Regions from separate parts of the Homo sapiens genome. Here region 1 is linked to region 2. The links come from fine-mapping of genetic effects on gene expression. A gene starts in region 2. The other region holds a variant in brackets. All regions are shown on one strand. Distances are between the middles of the regions.

What was found.
Region 1: its variant is fine-mapped to the expression of SND1 in monocytes (BLUEPRINT, PIP 0.95).

The regions. Positions count from the first base shown.
Region 1 is chr7:127,974,027-127,976,526 of GRCh38, reverse strand. The region is part of intron 15 of SND1 (staphylococcal nuclease and tudor domain containing 1); the gene reads right to left. Among named protein-coding and RNA genes, the nearest start is that of SND1-IT1, 22 kb to the left of the region's middle. The variant ACACACACACG/G (reference allele first, on the strand shown) is at 1,093.
Region 2 is chr7:127,650,563-127,653,509 of GRCh38, reverse strand. It overlaps SND1 (staphylococcal nuclease and tudor domain containing 1), which reads right to left and starts at 1,316. Exons shown (of 24, transcript NM_014390.4): 1 at 1,059-1,316. The coding sequence starts at 1,136. SND1-DT (SND1 divergent transcript) reads left to right here and starts at 1,678. Exons shown (of 2, transcript NR_186577.1): 1 at 1,678-1,837. RefSeq lists enhancers at 1,098-1,277, 1,102-1,720 and a silencer at 1,518-1,767.

The DNA.
Region 1 (2,500 bases), 320 kb before region 2:
TTTTTAGCCCCTGTCACAGTGTGGCAACAGTGCACCAAAGCACCAGGATTTCAACTGTCATGCTGGACACAAAGCTTCAGTTGAAAAGAAGGAGGGCAGTGAGGGAGAAAATCAGGTACCCAACAGACCCGCATCTGGTCTTTATTTTTGCAGCCATGCAGGAGGTATTAACTTGTGCCATCAGGCTGTGCCTGTCTTCCAGGGAGAGGAAAGCTGCTCCAGTGTGCTCCGCACAAAAGAAGGACAGCACCAGGATGGGAAGCTTGCCAGAAATCAGGATTTCTAATAAGGGTGGGGCAGGGGAGGGAGTGGCGAGGACTGATTACGGAGAGGAGGAGTAAACTTCCTGAACACAGCTCTCCACAAAGCACATTCCCCGACCAGGGTTCCTGGTGCCTGTGACAGCCAAGGGGTGTGTGTGAGCTTGTGCACTTGTCTGTGCTCACTCACCCAAGGAAATAGGGTGGGGAATAAGAGAGGAAAGGAGAACAGGGTGGAGGAGGGGCTAAGGAAACCACAGTGGCCATCTCTGAGGGCTGAACTCTCATGTATAAGCCCATGGTGGGACATAGCAACTGTCACAATGACCCAAATCAGAAACTGGTATTTGGGAAGAACGTAGGAAGAATGCTGAATGGAGCCGGACCTGCCTACTAACAGCCATGAGCACCTCTGTGGGGGTGTCAGAGTGGAGTGGAGCAGAGAGAAGAACGGGGTAGCGTGCTCGGCGCTACAGCGCACAGAAGAAAGTCTCATGCCAGGGCAAAAGAGAGGAGCCACCCCTTCTGTAGTGATCTGCCAGCCTCACACCCTTCACATGTCTTCCAAAGCCCCAGGCTGGCTGCCTGCTCTGCTCCCTTTGTCCATCCTGCCGACTTTGGTAGATGCTGGCTTGTTTGTGCCTTTTCACTCACTTTGGTTCCTTGTTCCCTCTCCACCATATCTTAATCCTGCTCTCTGTCAGGCCATTCTTGTGTAGTATCACAAGCAGAAAGAAACTTAGCTGAAGCCTTTTACTCTGATTGCTGGCTGCTCTGGGGTGCAAGCAGAGGGGAGTCAATCTCTCTTACACACACACACACACACACACAC[ACACACACACG/G]AGGGGAGTCAATCTCTCTTACACACACACACACACACACGAGGGGAGTCAATCTCTCACATACACACGCGCGTGCGCACATGCGCGCGCGCCCACACATACAAACACAAGTAATGCTTCTCCTGAGTGTCTCCCTACTACACTCAACTCAATACTGGGGTGTAAACAAGTGGCCTGCTCAAAAACACCTAAATTAATGGAAAAACGATGCGCTGCACGTCCTTGTAGGGAAATTTGGGGAGTCTGAAAAGCTGTATGGTTTGTGTGTGCCTCTTTTGTGTAACAATGTATTTTGGTTTTCATAGTTTTTATCATTAAAGAAATTGTATGTCCTCTAAAAATATAAAACAAAACAAACAAAATCAAGTGGCCAGTCACAAATAGGGCTTTTTCTCTTTGGGTAACTCCCTCTGCAATTCACAAAGTGCCTGGACACTCTCTGGCCCAAATGGATCCCCCCAGGTCTGAAGGCAATTAGATCTCCTGACACAAGATGCTCTTCAGCAATACAACTCAAGACCCAGGGGACAAAGGAAGATGGCCTTTTCTTTCTCAGTCAACCATCCTAGGGAGACACCAGCTCCTGAATGGCAAAGAGGACAGCTGTCAGCAAAAGGGCGGGGGAGCGGTGAGGCAAATTTCACAGCCTAACAGCCAAGAGAAAAACAAAAACAAGAGAAGTGTTTCATATGGAGGCTGTCTCCCCTAATGTCACTAAACTGGAAAATCCTATATTCTTGAATTCACCCACCCTTAGCAGACAGCTGTTCATGCCTGAGTCAGGAGGAAAGGTGAATGCTTTGGAAGGGGAATTCTCCTAGACAGCCTGGAATCTGAAGAAGCTCAATCACCTAAATAATGTCAGTATTTTGGACCGGCATAAAAAGTGGGCTCATTTCTGTATCTCCTTGGAAACCAAATGGCTCCCGAGGTAGTGAATGAGAGAGGGCAATGAAATCGCTGCTCCAAAGGGAGCCCAGGCCAACCCCCCAGCAAGCAACTCTGTCTTCTATTTGGTATTTCCAGGGCAGACAAGATCAAAGAAGGAGCATGAACGAATCTTCAAGTACCAAGTTTGATCCAAACCACTCCAAATTCACCTTGCGTGGATGGAGATAACGGGCATTTATAATCTGATGGGACCCTAACATTCTTACTTCTCTTCACCAATATTCTAGCTGAGATGCTGTATCGTATTAAATCTTTGTGGATGAGTGATGTGGTTTAAAATACTGCAGGCTTTGGCTGCCATTCCCTTCCCTGGGGTCTCAAAATAACTCCACACAAATCATTTTTGCTAAACACTCACTCAGGCAGCTCTTCCCTGCCAGAACACACACATCTTATGTAAGTGAAGAAGCCACCTAGCTTGCTGGAAGACAGTAGCACTCCCAGAGA
Region 2 (2,947 bases):
AACTTTCTACAACAGCAAAACTTGTGGAGCCTTGGGAGAAAGTATCACAAAAGATATTTGCTGTTGCAGATACAAATGTCAGAACTGCAGTATGAAACGACATCTAGAAGTTTACAGTCATCATAAACCAGAAAATTGGTAAAACCAAGAAATGTCAGGTTCCAAGATTTGGAAGGGTTTTGGGGAGGACAACTGGGGGCAAGTGATAAACTGAATTTATATTATCAAATTATCATGGAGCTAGGAGTAAATTGTAAAAATAAACTTTGCAGGTTCAAATTCAAAATTGAAGAATTTTCAAAAAGTTGAGGGTATATAAAATCAGGCAGAATCTATAGTGCTATGAGCACTAGACCAGGAATCCGAACACTTGGGCTCTTGCTATGGCTCCAACCCAAACCACCATGTGACCTTAAGCAAGTCACTTGCCTTCTTCAAGCCTATCTCCTTATCTTTAAGGGACGGGAGAACAATGATGATTACTAAGATTCTTGCCGGCCTAACCTTTTAGAAGTCAAAAGTACACAAAGATCAGGAGCTTTCAGGTCGACACAAGAGGTGGAGGGAAAGAGAGGAAAAGAGGGCCACAGAGTGAGAAAACTTGGGAGTCAAGTAACAGCGTTTGTGGGAACAGAAAAGTTTCATGATGGCCAAGTACTAGTAGAGAAGAGCCGATGTCAGGATCTCGAAAAACTACTAACTACTCAGCATATGTCAAAATGAACAGAAAGACGGGGGATGGGAGGACAGATATCAACGAATTGTCTCTGTTAATCAATCAGTAATCGATCTGTCCTGGTAAACAGACAGGAGATCCGAATGCCGCAACCTCGGAAATCACTGTGACCCCTGATGTCAAGGTGTCCGGGAGGCAAGGAACAAGGGGACTCCGTGTCTGCTTCCGTCTAGTGAGAGGATTCGGAGAATCGACGAAAAGTGAGGAAGGGGGCAGAGGAAAGGGGATCTGGGACATGGAGCAGGCTGGCGGAAGGTGGAGTCAATGCCTGACTCCCGCCCGAAGGCAGGCAGAGGGGTCGGTGTCCGGGGCCCGTTCTCACCATCTTGATGATGCCCCGCTGCACGGTGGGGACCGCGGGTCCCCCGGAGGAGCCGCCGCTCTGCGCGGAGGACGCCATGTGTGGAGATGCAAAGGCAACGAGTGGAGCGGCTGGCCGGACTGGAGGTGTCAATGTGGGTGTCGGTGTTGGTGAAAGGGAGTCGAGGCGAGGGGCAGGCTGGCTACCAGCTGCGGACGGTGGACGGGACGGACTCGCCGGGCGCTCACAGGAGCAGCAGCGGGACACGGAGCGAAAGAGACGCGATCTCCGCCGCCGCCACACGTTCTACTCGCCGCGCAAGCGTGCCAGAGCGCCACCGCCCTCCGCCCAATTAGCGCCCAGAGCCCGCCGGCCCTCAGGCCAATAGGCACCCTGCTCGCGGAGCCCCGCCTCTTGGTCCCCAAAACGGTGGTGAGTTCCAGGAAGCGCTGAAAGAGTTGATTTGCAAGGATGGGCTAAATATGGGGCGGGACTTCCGGGGCAGCCGGAGTAGGTAATGTCGGGAGGTGTAGTGGGAAGGAAAGGACACGTCAGCATCTGGCCGCGGGGCGCGGGGGGCCATGGGAGCCCCAGGGGCGGAGCCAGCCGCGCCCTCCCGCCTGACCTCGCCCATGACGTCCTTCCCCGCTGGCCTCAGGGGCGCACACTTGTATACCCACCTAGGTGGGCGCCGCTGTACCCGGGAATGCGGCCTGGGAGGGTGGAGCCACGCAGGCAGAGTCCTGGAGGAATCTCCGTACCCGCTCCACTCGACTTCCGACATTTTACCTTGGCTAAAAGTATGGAGAGAACTTGGAAAATCAGAGCTTTGTGGAACCTCCTACCGATGTGGGCTTTGACCTGCCACGCGGCCGCGCGCCCTTTTTGTAGTCAGAGAGTGTGCCTCGCCCTTGTTTGTGTCGCTGGGGTCTAGCACTTGTGAGGCGTTCCATTAATGTTTGTTGGTGGGAGGAATAAATGTCTCAGAGGAAGGACATGCCACGTATACAGGGGAGAGTGACCCTCGTTCTTCGGTCTCTTCCCAGCTGCTCCCGTGACGTTAGGGAAAAGGCTCGCTTCACGCTCTCACCCGACCCAGTGTGAAGCGCCTCCAGCCACCGGATACCTTCCCTAGCCCCAGTAAAAAGGTCGGGGAAGGAACGGGAAAGCCAAGGCCTACAAATATTTAAGTGACTGTTTAGCGAGAACTAATATTCGTTGAGTGCCCACTATGTGGAACCAAGGACCTTGCATGTGTTATGTCATTTAATCGTAAAACTTGGCTCTACACTGAAGACAGTACTTCCCTTGCAGTTCTTTTTGTTTCTTTGGTTTTGTGGCTTTTTTGAGACAAAGTCTCGCTCTGTCGCTCAGGCTGGAGTGCGGGGGCACGATCACGGCTCACTGCAGCCTTGACACTCCCAGGCTCAAGCGATCCTCCTGCCTCAGTCTCCGGTGTAGCTGGAGCTGGTACCACGGGTCCGCGCTACCACGCCCAGCTAATTTTTTTTTTGTAGAGCTGAGATTTCACTATGTTGCCCAGGCTGGTCTCCTGGGCTCAAGCTATACTCCTACCTCGGCCTCCTAAAGTGCTGGTATTACATGCATTAACCACAGTGCATGGCCCCTTGCTCTCTTAAAAGATTGTAAGTTTATTCTCCCACACTAAACATATCCCAGGGTTAAGTTTTGAGGTCACCTTCTTAGATCCCTAATTTGCCACCCTTTTCCAAAAAAAAAAAAAAAAAAAAAAAAAACCTCTGTGGAAGTTGGTTCCATCAGATTATACCCCTCTCTATCTCGTGGCTTTTTATCTACCGTACCCCTATTTCTACCGTGTCATTCATTGAAATTGTTAACACTTGGTGCACGGTCTTCAGCCAATAATCCTGAAATACTTCAATATCTAC